2 separate regions of the Homo sapiens genome follow, and region 1 is linked to region 2. Evidence: fine-mapped expression QTL. A gene starts in region 2. The other region holds a variant in brackets. All regions are shown on one strand. Distances are between the middles of the regions. Region 1 overlaps LCP1 (lymphocyte cytosolic protein 1). Region 2 holds the start of LCP1 (lymphocyte cytosolic protein 1).

What was found. PIP is the estimated chance that this variant, and not a neighbour inherited with it, causes the effect.
Region 1: its variant is fine-mapped to the expression of LCP1 in whole blood (INTERVAL, PIP 0.94).

What each region holds. Positions count from the first base shown.
Region 1 is chr13:46,146,011-46,155,443 of GRCh38, reverse strand. It overlaps LCP1 (lymphocyte cytosolic protein 1), which reads left to right. Exons shown (of 16, transcript NM_002298.5): 6 at 558-639; 7 at 2,499-2,664; 8 at 4,366-4,508; 9 at 6,997-7,092; 10 at 8,341-8,536. Among named protein-coding and RNA genes, the nearest start is that of LCP1, 31 kb to the left of the region's middle. RefSeq lists an enhancer at 4,249-5,448. The variant A/G (reference allele first, on the strand shown) is at 5,985.
Region 2 is chr13:46,177,744-46,187,176 of GRCh38, reverse strand. It overlaps LCP1 (lymphocyte cytosolic protein 1), which reads left to right and starts at 5,000. Exons shown (of 16, transcript NM_002298.5): 1 at 5,000-5,066. RefSeq lists an enhancer at 4,908-5,337.

The sequences.
Region 1 (9,433 bases), 32 kb after region 2:
CAAGGCACCCCATGGTCTTCCCCCAATCTGCTAGTTTTACCTTCTAAGACCCCTGTGACTCATTGGTACTCAGCCTAGGGCACTGAGAAGGATATAAAAATGTTATCATATGATTAGCTGAAGATACAAAGTTTGGTCCTGTGTCAAATAGAAATGTAGACAATAATAAGCTCAGAATTTTGTAGACAGTCTTTTATATAATGGGGACAATTTTCATGGCTAAGAAAATAAAGTACTTATGGTAGAATTACTTTGGTTATCCACCCAGAATTTCCTAATGTGCTAAGAAAATCAGGATAATTTTGCAGCTGTTTAGGTGGGAGAATGAAGTGGGGTCCTCATTTCCAACCTCAATATATGAATGTGGCTTCAGTAGTATTCACCTTTCCCGCAGATAGTTTGAGTCTAGTCAAACGGCATAACTGATTTTATATCTAAACATCACAGATTCTGTTGCTATCTTCTTTGATTATGGTATTGCTAGAATTTAAATTCAACGTTACTGGGCTCTGTTATTCAGAAGACTGCTTTCTTTAATTTAATTGTTTCTCTTTCAGTAAAATGATCAACCTGTCAGTGCCAGACACAATTGATGAAAGAACAATCAACAAAAAGAAGCTAACCCCTTTCACCATTCAGGTATGTCTTCCCACCGTTACCATAATACAGGATTTGTTTGGCATCAATGAGCATCATAACTGCTGAGTCCGCCTTTTTCAGGGGCTCAGACATCATTCGCAAAACCCAGGCTTTGGGCTGGTGACTTGTCATACTTCAGGGATAAAGGGATACATTTCTGAGCAGCAAAGAAGGGAGACTGGTGGAGTGGTAGCAGCTGGGGCTTTGTATGTTTGTTTTGGCCACTTAGGAATAAAATTCACTTTGGCTAAAGTTTTAACTCAAGCTTTCCTTAGCAATTTATCTTTGATTTGATGCCAAATAAACAGCATTTTAGATGAAAACATAAGCCTTTCTAAGAAGCGAGGGGGTGAAAAACGGGAAGTACTCTGGCAGCCTTCATAGTAATTTTGGCCACAGCCACGAGTATAATAAATATAACTTGCTTTTATTCCATCAATTTGTTGATTAACTGGAATAGTAACCAGCAGTAAGTGTATTTCTGTGTTGTGTTCCAATATTTTAACATTATCATAATTCTTTTGCTAAGAAACCATATCTAACTTCTTAAATCATGAACGATACATTATCTCCTGTGTGGATTTAAGCAACCTTGTGTACTTTAAAAATGGAAATGGTAACCAAATTGAGAACAATGATTAAACACATATGAATGCACTTAATGTTAAATTTACTCATAATCTTGACCATATATAGAAACAGTATTTTTCACTCATCATTTAAGCACTAGAACAAGGACCCACTTTTCTTCTGATAGTTCTTTTCCTAATTCACTGGCGGCCTTTGCTTTGTTTTTAATTTGCCAATTAAAACAATTTCTATACATCTCTGACATTGATATCTCTTCCTTTTTAAACTCAAGAATAGTACATACAGAGTCTGGACTGAAAACTCCCTTGACTCTATCTCGACTATATGTGAGTTACATTACCTGCATTGTTGTTACTCATAAGAACATAGAATCTATGAGTATGTGTGTGTATACTCAGGTTCCCTAGTTATTACAGATACTCAACAAATCAACCTAGCAAAAACCATTCCATCTTTTCCAGGAATTTTAATCGTATCTATTTTTCATTTTCGTTTTCTTTTTTTTTTTTTTTGAGATGGAGTTTCACTCTTGTCGCCCAGGCTGGAGTGTGATGGCATGATCTCAGCTCACCGCAACCTCTGCCTCCTGGGTTCAAGAGATTCTCCTGCCTCAGCCTCCCGAGTGGCTGGGATTACAGGCACCTGCCACCATGCCCAGCTAATTTTTGTATTTTTAGTAGAGATGGGGTTTCACCATGTTGGTCAGGCTGGTCTCAAACTCCTGACCTTAGGTGATCCACCCGCCTTGACCTCTCAAAGTGCCGGGATTATGGGCATGAGCCACCGTGCCAGCCTTTTCATTTTCTTAACACCCAATCTTCAAGTCAAAAAGCTCTTCTGCTACTCTCTTTTATGATCTTGATTTACATCAACAATTGTCTTATTCATGATGGCCAGTGACAGGACAATGACTTTCTCAAAGGTGTCCCTTTATTTTTGGCCAATAGAGATGTTTTGTGTGTCAGCTTCATCACAGAGCAAGATGGAAAAATATAGGCCTCATCAGTCTCATGCCAACCAGAATGGGCCTTCAACTTATGGTGCTGGTTTGATTGAATGGACCACTGCATGAGTGGTCGGTGTCTGGGTTACTGGATTTTCTCTTCTGGTTATGAGTCACTGTTTTTTTCTCAATGTTAAAATGAGTGAAGACCATGACTCTAAACCTGTGACCTTCGCAGAAGGAAAACATTGTTACTGTTGCCATCGGTATTATTTGGCATCTACAAAGTCATAGAACAAAAACTTGCATACATTTTCTCCCTCAGGAAAATCTGAACTTGGCTCTGAACTCTGCCTCAGCCATCGGGTGCCATGTGGTCAACATAGGGGCTGAGGACCTGAAGGAGGGGAAGCCTTATCTGGTCCTGGGACTTCTGTGGCAAGTCATCAAGATTGGGTTGTTTGCTGACATTGAACTCAGCAGAAATGAAGGTAAGAGCAAGTCCCAAAGGTCATTTATGACACAGCTTTCTAATAACTTACGCGTTGGGGACTGTAGGAGGAAGATGTCAGAAATTCTCAAGTTTTGAAAACTACACAGTTATATTGATTCCATGGTATTCATGTCACAGATTCTATACACACAGACCAGACGTTTTTTAATGATAGAGCAAAAGCTTTTTAAGACCATAGACTAACAATAATGTTTGTTTGGAGCATAGGGCTCAGTCTTGAATGTTTGGCACTCTAACCTCAAGAGGTTTTTTCAGAGCTCACTTTGCCTTTAGATATTTGTAACAAATAAGAGGACTTTTAACTTGCACTTTGCGAAGTAAGCAACTCACATTCATATACTATAGTGAAGGTACCAGATTAGGAGGAACTTGGTCTATTTCTTATCAAAACTATAGAGGAAGGTATAGGTCAAAGGGTTCAAGGTTGCAATTATATGGGATGAATAAGTGGAGATCTAAACAGCACGAGGGCTATAGTTAATAATATTGTGCTGTATACTGGTAATTTGCCAAGAAAGTAGATTTCAGGCACTCTTCCTACAAAAAAGAAAGAAAGAAAGAGATAGAGAGAGAAATGAAGAAAGAAAGAAAGAAAAAGAAAGGTAACGATATGAGATGTGAGTATGTTAATTTGCTTGACCAACAGTAACCACCTTACTGTGTATGTGTCTACCAAGATAAGTATACCAAAACATCACGTTACACACCTTAAATCTATGCAGGCTAGAATAAACATTTTTAAAGACCGTAGAAAATTCCATTTAGGGTTTCAGAGTTCTCAACTAAATATGTAGCTGTCAATCTTATTGCGTCTTCTCTCACCATCTTATCTGTATGTAAACAGTGACAGCCCCCTGGCTTAGACAGAGGTAGCCCACCTTGATAAGTATCATGCAAAACACGATGTTATCTTTTAGTTATCAGGTACAAATCCTACCAATATGAAATCTGTAGTCAAGTTCTAATCTTTAGTTATACATACTTTTTTATTTATATGTCCAAATCACAATAACCAATGAAAAATCCTGAAATATTATTTAAAAACCAATGTATTAAACATAATATAAAGAAGGCGGGGGAGAGGAAATAGGGATCTTAGAACCTGTGAGAAAGAATATTGATCTTCAAATAATGACCTCAGCTAAATTTAAACCTTCTAGCTGAGCAAAAAAATACTTACTCATCTGGGAAAACGTAGAGGAGAGTTGATTACATTGTTGAGTTGCTATAATTAGGCAGGTAAGCACTTGAAATATAAAACACCTATGGGAATAGACAAGAGAACATTGTTATTATTACAAAATTGATCTCTTAAAAGCAAAAATGTTGTCATATTGTGAAATGTGGTTTGACAGACCCAGCAAAACATCCGAGCCAGTAGCCTTGGTTATTTTTATGGCTCTGCCCAAATGTTCTTAAACATAGCGTTGAGATTCACTGTGCTTTGTTTTCTCCATCTGGAAAATGGAGATAATAAATAAGCTCACAATGGCTTACGCCTCTTTTTAGGGAATAATAATAAAATATTTAATCCATGGGAAAGGCTACAAGAACCTTTACCCCAAAGAGGTAACGTTGTTATCTTTAGCTTTTTAGCAGAGCTTAATGAAAGTTATAACCAACCCCCCTCCCCCAACATCGCTGCATTTATTTTTCTGTGGTTTTTGTGCTTCTTCAGCTCTGATTGCTCTTTTGAGAGAAGGTGAGAGCCTGGAGGATTTGATGAAACTCTCCCCTGAAGAGCTCTTGCTGAGGTGGGCTAATTACCACCTGGAAAATGCAGGCTGCAACAAAATTGGCAACTTCAGTACTGACATCAAGGTAGGAGGAGCGTTGTTTGAACATGACTCTCTGCAGGAGTGAAGGGGAATTTGGGCAATAATAAAGAAAAGATAAAGATTTGGGGCTTCCTCTCTTCAGAAGTTCCAGGGTAGTCTGGTGCTGTTTTGGAGGTGCTCACTGTCCTTGAGAGCCCATCTGCTGCTCTAGTCCTGGGCCATACACAGACCTGCCCAGAGTCCTAGTGCAGTGTCTCGATTGGAGTTTCCATATCAGGAAGTAGAGGGACAAAGGTGAGCTAGAGGAAGAGCAAGAGAACAGTCTGCTGTCCAAGTAAAGGGAATATATGTAGGTCTGTAATGTCTCTGGTTTCATAAATGGGAGCAGCAGATGGGAATTCCCTGTAAAAAATTAAATGAAGATGACTCTTCTAGTTATACTAATAACAGCAAACATGGTGTCTGCAACATGCCAGGCACTGTTCTAACTGATTTATATGTGTATTCTCTTATTGAATCCTTACAACAACCCCATGAGGTAAGGGTTATTATCCTCTCATTTTACAGATAAAGAGACAAAGAGGTCCATAGGGGAAAGGCTGAGGCAGGAATACACTGTGGTTTTCAAGTATATGAAAAGTTCCCTGTCAAGGTGAAAGAAAACAGCTATTGGCAATGATGACAGATGGATGAAGATAGAAAGTGGTTAAGGAGCAGAAAGGAATGGAAAGCGGTCCCTAGAAGGAAAGAGTAGGAGATGCTGGGATGCAACACCAGGAAAATACTTCAGTCTCCACTTTCTCAAACATTAAATAACTTTTCCCCAAAGAGAAAGAGTCAGAGGAAAGTTCACATGACTCAACAGGAGTACACCTAGGCTTGTAATTCTTTGAGTAACAGTTTCCCACTGCTATATGACGTGCATTCAGTGGCATTTAGAACTCAGCGTGTGTCAGGCACTGTGCCAGTCAGAGTCAAGCTTCTAGATGGAAAGCCCCCATTTTTTAGGATCTAAGCTAAATCCATCTTTCTAACTATGCATCTTTCATGGGCTATTAACATTCTTCTAGCACCACCAACCGACCTGGGTTTTAACAGGAGCTGGCTGTCATGCTCTCCCTTTGTGCTCAACAGTTAAGCTCTGCAATTGCAAAACTTTTCAGACAAAATTAGGCTGTCAGATCTCAGCTGTAAATTTACCTAATTTCCTGTCATTAAATGGCTGTGTTCTCTAGAACCACCATTTTGTGCTTTGGGAAGTGTCTGTATGAGATAGGAGCTGGCCAGATGAGCACTTACTTATACAGTGTTGTGCCTGTTCTCTGGCAGCCGCTGCATGGCAACTGACTCCGTGCTGTCATGTGTATGTCTGAGTAGCCAGCCAGCAACCTTGGGAGATGTCTTTAAATCGTGTAAATTGGCAAAGGCGAGGAGAACACCCAGGCTAGAGTGAGTGAGAAGGTTCATGAGAGTCAGGTGAAATGAGGTTACTCTTAGCCAAACTAAAAAGATGTAACCC[A/G]GGGCAGGCAGATGGTATTGGTGCCTGACACCTGCATGTGACTTTCACTGACTTCAAAATAGCTACAGTGAAAAGTCAGAGAAGGGAGGGTAGATAGAAGGGAGATGAAGATCATTTTCCCCAGGTGCAACATCAATGATTCACACTCTCTGGTTCTCCTCTTTCTAATGCCAAAAGTGGTGAGCATACCTCTCCTCTGCCCAGGCCTTACCTACCCTAACCAGTTGTAGAAACAAAATAATAGCTGATTTTTCGATCTTTATGAGAAATTGAGATGCTATTAAATGATTTAAATAAACTACCTGAAAATCTGTATGCTTTCATTGACTAAGAATAAATTTATATTTTAAGACTATAATTCTGAGAATTCTTTTTGTCAATAAGCATATTTTCAGAATCTAAGAAAACTTGAGAATTCAATACCTGTATCTAATCTGCTATAACTAAATTGAACCATTTTTCTAGCTTCTAGATAAATATGAAATGCACTTTTCTTAATATTTCTCCTTTTACGTAAAGATTGCTTGTTAATGCTTCAATCTTCTGTCTTTGACATCTTTTTCTCTTGCTGATTGTCCATTTAAATGTATTTTAAACTCGCTTTAAACTTGTGCTTCCTTTTTCTGTCACTTTTTTTTAATTAAACCTTAGCTGACTGACTTCTACAGCAATATAAAGGTATATATATATTTTCCTGTATACAATTTAATTCATGTAAATAAGTTGTTTTTCTCCCCTAAAGACAACAGAATAATATCCACTTCTTTAGGGTGCCTTTTGTGTATATCTTGTCTATTTTATTGTTACGCTCCTTTTAAAAAGAAAAGCAAATGTGATATGTAAAGAGACAAATAGAACATTCAAATTAGTGAATGTTTCTAGCTTTGTTAAGTTACATTCTGGAATGATAGCTGAATATGAAATAAAATGTTTGCTTTTGGGAAATCATTGTTATGCTAAGTATGTAATTAGCTGTGCTATTTTGAAATTGGAATTTCTTAATTTCTCACAGGACTCAAAAGCTTATTACCACCTGCTTGAGCAGGTGGCTCCAAAAGGAGATGAAGAAGGTGTTCCTGCTGTTGTTATTGACATGTCAGGACTGCGGGTAAGGCCAGGTCCCAGTTGTGTTTGGAGAATATGATGCTATTTTCATGTTGGCAGTTCCATTACCTTGTGTGGCCCTGATTCTGGAGTTCCATGACTGGGCATTTCTGCCTAAAGCCCTGTTAAAACGGTAAAACTGTGAGCAGTTTGGGATAATAATTGATGAAAACTGAATCTGGAAATACAACATTAAAGAAAGAAACCAATAGTAATTAAACACCATCCAGCATGCTAGGCAATTCTATATATGTTCATCATTTAGTAGACTCTATAACCCCACATGGGTCTGAATGTTATAATAAAACTTCTGTTTTGCCGCCACTTTAATACTGATCTTGAGAAGTCTCTTTGCCCGTTTCTGTGCCTCATTTAATATCACTGGAGTTAAATCCAATGAGTTCATGTTGAAGTCAACTGATTCCTAATGAGAAGTAGAGTAAAAGTAAATGACAAGTAAAGCTCATGAAATGCATAATGTGTAGCGTTATCTAGTAAAGGGTCATATTAAGAAATCATCCTAATTTAAAGTTTTGTTTTCTGAAAATTGGTGGTTTCATGTACTTTAAGGACAGTGGGCCATATTTCAGCAAAATTTTAGGGTTAAGAGTCACTTACAAATGGCTAGAGATTCTCTAGAATTATTTGAGCACATTGAGTGGTTCAAAATCTGAAGTCTGCAAAAATAAAATTGATATTATATATTTATCAATAATAATACATAGGTTAACTGATAAAATTTATTTTATTTGGGTTGCAAGTATACCAACTCAATGTGGAGACAGTGGTTATGCTAATCATATGTTCTTACTGGCAAGTGTAAATATCTTTTGTGAACTGGTTATGGGAATATAAATTAATAAATAAAATTTTTGATAGACAATCTCATGTCATCTGTGCACACAAATAATAAAAAGGAATCTTAATGGTTGGAAATAATTAAGATAAACTCAAATGATCAGTTTTCAGAATCTACTGCATCTCTTTTGAAACAGAGCAACCAACCACTCATCTGAAATAGTTTGATAAAGGAGATGAGAGATCCTTGTTACTTAACCTCTGAGATTCCTTTTACTTGTGACTTTCTGATTTTGGTGCAGGTGCATATAGGCAATAATGTGCTGTTATTAAGTGTCTGCCTGAGATAAACACTAATGATTTCAGTGAGATTCCCATTTCTTTTCACATTATGCAATCTGCTTTGTGCATGGAGAGCCTTGACCCAGCCCTGAGACATCCTTTTGCATTGCAGGAGAAGGATGACATCCAGAGGGCAGAATGCATGCTGCAGCAGGCGGAGAGGCTGGGCTGCCGGCAGTTTGTCACAGCCACAGATGTTGTCCGAGGGAACCCCAAGTTGAACTTGGCTTTTATTGCCAACCTCTTTAACAGATACCCTGCCCTGCACAAACCAGAGAACCAGGACATTGACTGGGGGGCTCTTGAAGGTAACTGTAAACGATTTGCCTAAGATGGGGAAAGGCACTCACAATTCTAATTCAATGGCAATTCAAACTCACTTCCTAAGCAAATATAAACTATTTACATGTGCAAACAGGCCATTAATTCTCTGGTATGCAACAAAGAGAATAAATAGATTCATCAAGTCAATTTCAGCCAAGCAGGAATAATCAAATACCATTCTATCACGTCCATTAACAAAGCGTTCATCCATTATCAGAATTAAATGTTTTAGGAAAGATAATGCATTTAGTTATTAGATGAAATAAATCCTGAGTTTCAAAAAGATAATTTACGTACTTAATGGACTGTGTTGATTCCTAGAGACAAGAAATTGCCACCATCCATTTCCAAAAAATGATATTTAAGGTATGCTGGGATATGCTTACTGAGTTTTTGGTTTTCTTTTGTTTCTTACGGGAGCCACAGAAAAGTATTTTGAGGCAGAATCCCTAACAGTTGTATTTTTCAGGTTAATGCTCTAAGATTCAACAAAAAGCATATAGCTTTAATTACGTTCTACCAGGTAGAGGTGCTGGAGATGTTTACTTGACTTTTTTAAAAAAATCATGAACTAGTCCCAATATTGAGACAAAGGTCAACTAATATTAAATGAATATCACCCAAGCAAGGAGATTCAGATTTGAAGTATGAGTTGATCCTTTTCCACAGTGCTTTACTCTCACTAGAAATGCAGCATAATCGTGCTCCAACACTCCTGCATTGGTGTCATTTGCTGAATTATGGTCAGGGGGTTGTGTGTATTTTGTTGACTCCCAAATCTATATATCAAGCCCACAAATCACCCATTTCAGCTGCTTCTAGAATATTCCTGTTTGGATCCTTGGCTATCATTTGAGGTGCAGCATATGCAAAACAGAATT
Region 2 (9,433 bases):
AAACTGTTCTGGAGGATGATGGGAAGGTTAACATGTATATGTTGGACTGGGGGATGTGAGAGGGTCAAATATTTATCTCTCAAGTAGGAAGGAAAAAATATATGAACATATATATACATATACATAAATATATGTAGGTATCTGAACCCAATCAAGATACACCATAAGCATAACATCTAGAAATATGTAATAAAATAACAGAAGAATTAGCTAAAACTGTTCAAAATACTTGGTTCTAGGGAATGGGAATCAGAGGTGAAGGAGTGTGTCGGGAGACTGGTGTTTCATGAGAAGCCTTGAGGTAATATTTGACTTCTAAAACCAAATACATATATTACTTTGATTAATAAATTAAAGAAAACATATGTCCACACGCACAAAATGTACACAAATGTTAATTGCAGCATTTTTATAATATCAAATAGTAGGCAGCATCCAAATATCCATCAGCTGATGAGTAAATAAAATGTGATATATTCATACAGTGGAATAGCATTCTTCCATAAAAAGGAGTGAAGGTCAGGTGCAGTGGCTCATGTCTGTAATCCCAGCACTTTGGGAGGCCGAGGCAAGAGGATCACCTGAGCCCAGGAATTCGAGACCGGCCTGGCCAACATGACAAGACCCTGTCTCTATAGAAAAAAAAAAAATTTAAATATCCAGGTGTGATGGTGCGTGCCTGTAGACCCAGCTACTCAGGAAGCTGAGGCGGGAGGATGGCTTGAGCCTAGGAGTTCAAGGCCTCAGCAAGCTATAATCACACCACTGCACTTCAGCCTGGGCGACAGAGTGAGCCCCTATCTCAAAATAAATGAATAAATAATAAAATGAAGTAGTGACATGTTACAACATGGATGGACCTTGAAAACATGCTAAGTGAAAGAAGCTCGTCACAAAAGAGCATGTATTGTGTAATTCCCTTTATATGAAATGTCCCGAATAGGCAAATTTATAGAGAGAGAAAATAAACTAGTGGTTGGCTGTGGCTGGGAATTTGGGAGATGGGGGTGAATGGGGAGGAATCTCTAACAGGTACAGAGTTTCTTTTGGGGATGATGAAAATGTTCTGGAATTATATAGTGTAATTGTTGCACAACTCTGTTAAAATACAACAAACCACTGAATTGTATACTTTTTAAAGGTGAATTTTATGGTATGTAAATCATATTGCAATGAAGCCATTATTTTAAAAATTAAAGAAAAAAATTAACAATCATACCTAATTCATAGAGTTGTTGTGAGGAATAAATGAAATAATGGATGTTAGGGGTCTAGTCCAGAGCCTGACGTAAATATTAAGCGATTAGTTAACACGTACATAGGATATACTACGTGCCAGGCACTCTTCTAAGTTCTTTACATATATCAATTCACTTACCCCTTGCAACAACTGTCTAAAATAGACACTGTTCTTACCCCCATTTTATAGACTAGGAAACTGAGGCCAGTGCAAGTAACTAATTTGCCCAAGATCACACAGCTAGTACAACAGTAGAGCTGGAACTTGACCCCAGCCAGCTGGCCCAGCATCTTTACTCTTCACCACTTTGATGCTCCCTCTCTCTGCCTCCCAGGTCCCATGTCTGGGTTAGTGCTGTGTGCTCCTAGGGACGCTGCTTTTCGTCTGTTGTGCTTCCAAGTAGATAACTCTTCACTTGCCTTTTTTCCTTGTCTGTGTCTTCAACTACAGTGGACATTCTACAATGGCAAGGACTGTACCCATCTTAATTCATCTTCATTCCCTGCCCATGATATGTTGGGATGAGGGTGGGCTGCAGAGTGAAGCAAAGGTGTTTTTCTCTTCATACAAATCCCATGAGTGCATGGAGAGGAAGTGGGGAGAGCTGAAGATGCTAGCATTAAGATGCTAGAGAAACACGAGACAATTGATGGAGCAAGATATCTAAGGAAGTAGAATATTAAGAGTGAGATAGTGTTGAAACACTGACCTTGGGAAGAAAGAAGAATGCCGCTTCCATTAAGACTGAAAGAGAGGAGGAAGAGGTGGATATTGTGGAAGTAGAGAGGAAGCTCATACCAGACGACTTGGATCATCTCAGTCAAGAAGGGGCAACAGAAGAATCTTGGGCCAGGACAAAGCATAGGAGGGTGAAGTGGAAGGTTGAGGCAAGAGGAGAGAGTTTAGAATAAATACCCAACTTTTTGGGGTCTGTGATCTCTTTACTAATACAATGGACCCTTCTCCCAGAAAAAAAGTACATACACACAAAATTGTGCATTTAGTTTTAGGGGTCTATGGACTCCAGGTTGAGAATGCCTGTTCTCAAGACTTAGTAAAATTGAATAGAAGTATTTCTGAAAGTAATTTGAAGTCAAGCATCTTGACTTTTTAGCATTCCAAGTTTGTGTTTCTGTGACTTTCCTCAGCAATATTTAGAGGCCTGAGAGTAGCAGGTGATCTGATATCTGGGACTGAGGCCAGAGGCTTCAGGGCAGGAGAGGGTGGGATGAAGTCTGAGAGGGTGGTAGGGCTTAGAGGAAGGCAAAACCCAGGCCAGGAACAGGTGGCAGTGGAGGCTCATAGAGGGTGGGCTGAGAAAGGTCCACTCCGGCTTCAGGCCATAAGGGGGCGCACTGTCTGTACAGAACATAAAAACGTAAGAAAACCAAAAGTCAGTCTTCTGTTTACTAGTACTATGCTGCACAAGCAATTTAAAACACCAACAGCAAAAAAATACACTTCTCTGAAAAAGTCTTGGTCTAGGACCTAAACAATTGCCTGAAACTGGGTAGACTTACACCAATGAGAGGCAGATAAAGAGATTAAGATTGAGGGAGTAGGGCAGGGCTTGCAATGGTGCCGGCCAGGATGTGGCTGAGGGGGTGTGGGTGCCTGCCGTGGATGCTAGGGTAGAAGACGACTCTATTAACTGGGTGGCTGTAAGCAGTACCCAGGTCAATGCCTTTCATCTTCTACAACCTCGACGTTGCCTGGAATCCTAAATCTTTTTCTTCACTTAACAAACATCACCTCTGCTCAAATCTGCAACTGCTTTGATATCACACTGCCTTTTTCACCCCTCTATTATAGATGGCATTTATTTACTTACATGTTTTTTCCCCACTAGACTATACTCCTTGAGAACAGCGATTGTGTCTTATTTATTTCTGAATCACCAATTCAGACAGGCATGCAAACACTTGCTGAACCAATGCACAAATATATTTTGCTCTTCTTCATAGATTCCTCCGGCCTCAGATGACCAGGCACCACTAGATACAGAACACTGTGCTTTCCTTCTCCAAGGTAAAGGAATAAATATCTGTTCCCCTTCATGAAGTGTTACTGTTGGGCCTTTATGCCATCCTGAAGCCACCAGGATGTGGAACCAGATCAGGGAGGTCCACAGTTACAACCCCTTGTATCTGTAACACCAGCAGGACATTATCTACAGAGTCCTGCTGCAGGGCCCCGAATGAAGACAGCATTTTGCTGCTTTGTAGCGTGAGCAGTGCTGTAACAGTGATGCATGGATGTTCCTCTGGTGTCCTGAAAGAATGTAGGTGCTTCTTGAAAGCTCTCTGCAACTTATTAATTGGGAGTGATTATGCGATGGAGAAAACAGAGTCCCATCACCCCCTCAGTCTTCCCTGGGAAATCACAAGAGGGCTGATAGCTCTCTGTGAGGTGAACCGTTTCTAGAATCCCCACCGTCTCGTCCTGTTCTTCCGCCCACCCAGTTCCTCAAGATAGCCCCTGTGGGCTTCTGATGAAGTCACCACACCACTGGCTAATGAAGTAGATAAACCAGAACAGTTTGGTTTAACATTTAAGGTCAGAAACAGGAACTTTCTAGAGGAGAAATCAAAAAAGCAAAAGAAGTATAAGGGCAGCCCTCCAACCAGTCAGAATACCGTGACCACCTGAGAGGCCCGTGGCCCAGCGGACACGGACGCATGTCAACTCTGGAGCAGATATCTTCAGCGCAGCATCTGACCTGGGAGTACAGCCACATACCCTCATTCCTAAACGGCAGATTGACTACTGGAGTCACACACAGTCTCCGGGCAATGTGGAGACATGTCTAATATTTAGTCAACATAACTCAGGGTGCCACAGTCTTCACAACTGTTGTGAGCACTTGAGGATGCTCCATTTGAAGATAGGAATTTGCCCTCAAGCATCTGGGGTTTGGGTACAGAACAGAGCTTCCCCTGCCACCACCTGCTAATTTTATAAAATGTGCATTCAAAAAAAAATCCTGCCTGTAAGAAGGAATTAAGCTACCCATTTAAATATAACAGCTGCCTGTGCAATCTACTGCTGCTCTTTATAGGAAACGCTTAAATAATTGAGATACTTAATTGGGTTAAAGAGATCCCTAGCACATAGATGTTCTATAAATAAAAGAATGAGTAAATAATCTAGTAACCTTCCTTTTCATGTCCTTCACTTAAAGAGATCGTTCTGTTTTGTTTGCACCAATAAGATCACTGTTAGAGGACTCCAGAGAGGTTTGATTTCAGGTGGGGTGGGGCTTTCCCAAGGAAGTCCCTTTTCATTTGTTTCAGGTGTACTGCCACCTTTTTCCCTGGCTCTTTCACTAAAAATGAAAAATTTGTTGATCTTTGCTGTAAGTAGGTAGGCATCTGGGCTTTGCTTTTGCAACTAGAGTCAAAGAAGTCAAGTTATCAGGCTGATCTTGCCTTGCTATCTAGAATCAGAAAGGTTTAAGTAGCCCAGGGACTACTCAAAGACAGCTGGAGGAGAAAGGGAGAGAGAAAAATGCTTATAAAGAGGTGGGCAAAAGAGCGGGACCTTGTCTCAAAAAAAAAAAAAAAAAAGAGGAAGTGGTAGGAGGTGTCTGAATTTCACTGTGACCTGTTCTGTCAGGTGATTTTTGGTGGGGCGGGGACATGAAAAAAAAGTTAAAATGTCCTTATAAAGACAAAATCTTTTTCTTTCCTGGCTGATGATTTGTCATTCTAGTCACTTCCTGCCTTGTGACCACACACCCAGGCTTGACAAAGCTGTTCTGCAGATCAGAAAGAAGGGGTTCCTGGTCATACACCAGTACTACCAAGGACAGCTTTTTTCCTGCAAGGTAAATGTTCTTCATGTGTTTTTGTTGGTTTTAAGCGCTTGTGATGCACTTCGGCACTGTTTCTGTGGATTGTGGGTTTTGCCTTCAGGGGACCAGAGATCTGAGCATGTCACCTGAGACCTCTGTGATTCCTGCCACTGTCTAACTGGCCAGGACATCTGCCGCCACCTCGCGTGGCCATCCAAGATGGAGCACCTCGGCTCTCTGGGCTGGGTTCTTCTCAACTTATCTGCAGTTATCACCCCTGCCCAAAATTAAGGTTTCTTTTTCCTTTTAAAACCAAACCATGTTCTGGTTTATTTCTATTGCTCTATTTCACGGAGGCTATTTACTGTGATTTTATCTTCTTTAAAATGTTTTCAGGAAAAGCGCGTATTGATAATTTAGATTGTATGGCTTATTGGCCCAATGGGGGTAGTTTAATTTTAGTTCCTGCGGTTCTGTTTTTCTAAAAAACTTCTTTACAGTACTTTAGTGGATAAATTATCTAGAGTCATATGTTACTGAATGTGATACTGGTTATTTGAGTGATTTTTGGCGCCAAGGGTTTTTAATGGGTGTGCTTTATAACCACATGGAATTAGAGGTTTTCTCTTTTCCATTTGTTCTCTAAAAATAAAAGCAATTTGTATAATGCTTAATTGTAGTGTTTTTGTAGGATTGTCTGAATTATTTGTTATGCTTATGACCATATCAATGAATATTCACTCAAATTCTGGGAGAAAGGCTTTTATCTACAATAGAAATTTTTACACAGTTGATATGGGATATTTATTTCAGAAACTGCCCAAACATAGACACTTTGGATTTTGTAGTATAAGCTTTTACTTAATTACCACTATCACATAACACTAAGAACCATTGACAAATGATAACTATAAAAGCCATTCAGACTGGAAATGCGAACATTAATCAGGATGTTTATCAAAACCGAACTTTTCTTTTACACAGCAACTTGTTTTCTAAAATTACTCTGTCAGAACTATCAGTAAGCAAATAAAGGTGGCTTATCCACACACATCTTGATTTTGAATTTACATACATTTGTCATAAGTTTGGTTTCTATTAAGTATAATTGTTTAAAGAATGTCTGTGTAGACAAATTTGAATAGAATTAATCATTTACCTATAAATGTGAATTTCTGGAAACTGCAAAATGTGACCACCAATGTTACTTTGCACATCTCACCTGAATAGTTTCAAACAAGCAAAAATGTGAAACTGAGATAAGAGGGACTTGAACCCCGTAAAAGAACAGACTAAAAATATGTTGTGTCTTATTTTAAGTAAAACTATTAATGAGAATAAAATAAATTCGAATGTGAAGGAATGTCAGTATTTTTCTTATATTTACGAAGGAATAAAAAAGAACTATGCGAAAGTTAATTCAAAATATAAAGGTCCCCTGTTTAAAGTTAAGTTTACATTGCTAAAGCATCAACCCCATATGTTACAAAGATATTCCTCTTCATTCTAGCTCACCCCCAGGAACATCAGGGGAAAAATCTTCTAGGTCTTGCCCTTTGAACAAGCACTGCTGTGGTGGGATGGAGTTGTGCCTAGGAGGACATTTCCTTAGCAATCCCAGAGACCCTTTTCTTTGTAGCATTTAAATTTTTGTCTCTTTTGTAAATTATGCCTTGAAACAATTGGTAATTTGGGAAACAATTTCAGTGCTTTAACTTCATTTATAATTCTATCTCTGAACCCTTTGGGGAAGGGAAGACCAACAAGTAAAGTCTCATTTACTTGTTGTTAAAGTACCATTTAACTTGGAGAGGACAGGAAATTAATAATAGCACTCAATAATTATGAGCACGTAGTGTAAGCAGCTACTCTTTATGCATTACCTCGTTTAATCCTCTCAGCTACCTTTAGAGATAAGGAATGGGCTAGATAATTGAAGGAACCGGCCATAGGTCACTGGGCAGTTGGGGTGGGGGGCAGTAGATGGCCAGGATTTCAGGCTCCTACTGACTGTGTGTGTTACAGATCCTCCCTTCCAGGCCAGCATATTTTTCTCAGAGGTAGGTGATTATAGACTTTTATTACTGAAGCTAGCTAACAAGATCTTGGCACTCACAGTTTTAAGAGAGAATAAAAGAGAGAGAGCAAGAGAAAGAAGAGAGAGAGAGAGAGAAGAAAAACTTTGTAATAAATTTACAAACATTTTTATTTTTATAAATAAGAGATACCATTGCAGGTTTTATATAATAATGGGCTGAAGAACTATTTTTAAATTAATGCATAATTTTACTAAAGAATTGTGTGCCTTTACAAACTTGCCTCGACCCACTTCCCCAATCTTATTTCTTGTCACTTCCTTCTGTTCAACCTCCCACTACCCCATCCCCTCCCCCGCCACTGCTAACCCACATTTTGGTGCACCAGACCACAAGCCACCAGAAAGTTCCATTCTCTTTCACCTTTTTTCACTGCAACTGTTTCTTTAATTGCATTCTTCTTTATTTTTAAAACTTCTGATCATTTTTCAAGGCGGACTTCAAGAAACATACCCTTTTGGAGGCCTTCCCATCTTCTCCCTGCCCCCACTAAATGTTTCTTTGGTGTGCATTTGCTCAATGCTTTGATCTTGGAGTAAGTATAACATTAATCACATTGTCTTAGTTTCAAGTACTTATTTGCTGACAGACCTGAGCTCCTTCTCCATCTTTCCTGGCACATGTAGATACTAAAGGCATTTATTGAATTGAAAATTTGTCACAAGTATTTTTTTTCTCAGCTTCTTACATACGCATGAAAGACTTTGATTGTACTTATTAACTTAATATTTACTGAGTTTCCATTTATTGCTATGAATGAAGATGCAACAATAATATAATATTTTGCATTCTACCATGTTTCAGCTTTACCGAAGCCCTAGTCTCATTTTAGCTTCAAAGTATCATATAGACATTGACCTCAAGAAATTTAAAAAATTGTACAATGACTAACAAACAGGGAAAATTACAATCTCATTTTTTTAGTATAAATACATTGGTTGGGCCAAAACTTAGCTACCCTTGCCAAAACTATATACCCAATAATGGGCCTCTTTGATGACAAAGAACACAAGGGCAGTTGTTAACTTTTACTTAGTCACTTTGGATTATTCTCAGAAAATTCTCAAGTCAACTTCTCCTTGTTACCTAAAGAGTACAGGCCCTTCTGTGTATACAGGAGAGATGGCAAGCAACTTTTAAAATCAGCTTAGGTAAAATAAAATTAAGAAATCTGCTTATAAGGTTATACTTATGAAGAGTCAAACACTTATAAAATAAGATTATAAAGGCTTGGACTTTATTACTAATAGTAGATTTTATAGTAGAGTGACATTATTTCAGTTAATCTAATTTTCTTCCTAGTGTTTTTTTATCTGCTAGTTTCCCAACTTACAGATATCAAATGAAATGATACTATTTCATCTGTATACTGAACACTGCAGAAATAAACATTAGAATTAGGACACATCAAAATATAAAACTAATCAGTGTCCACAGATTTGAAGAGTTTCAAGTGTTCCTATTTTGCCAGATGGAAGCGCACTCCTTAAAAAAGTGTTAATGTTCTACAGGGTCTTCATTTTGAGGCTCTCGGAAGTCACCTCCTGATTAGATGTTGGTTTCCTAGGGATATCTCCCTATAGCTGCTGTGGCCGTGGTGTTCCCCAGATGGCATCTCCTTGTTGCTTTCCTCAGTTCCCTTCTGATCCAACTTCCTGCCTTATACTATTGACTGTTCCTGTTGTTTTGGTTTGTCAGTTTCAATGCTTACATCAGTCTGCCCAGAAATTGCATAACTGCTCCATCTTGTAAGATATCGGTGGGGGATGGGGGGGAGTGGAAGGCGCTTCAATTAATCATCCTAATAATAACGTTAATACTTACATTGAATCAGGTGTTTTTCTAAGTGCTTTAACCCTATGAAAGCATTTAGTTGTCATACAGTCCTGTGAGGTAGTGTCTGGTGTCCTCTTCATATTTGAAGGCAAGTTCATTCATTCACGTATTTTATTTAATTTTCTACAATTGGATCAATTTTGTCTTAACTGTTGAATTTCAAGGCAACTTCCTGGAATAAACAGGTAGCAAACCATGGTGCTTATTTGTAACTAAGCCCTCAAGTTGAGCTCAAATAATCATAATACTTCCCCAAATAAATGCATCTATATGATAAGTGCTTTTATAAACAAATTATTCTGTGTCATCATATCATCATCATCATCATTATCATCACCATCAGCAGCAGCAGCAGCAGCAACAGCATCAGTAGTCAGCCCCTCTGTACACTTGACTGAGTAGAAGTTGGTTGTTAACAATTACAGGCCTCTGCATGGGTCACAAAACATGATCTCCACCCTCAAAAAC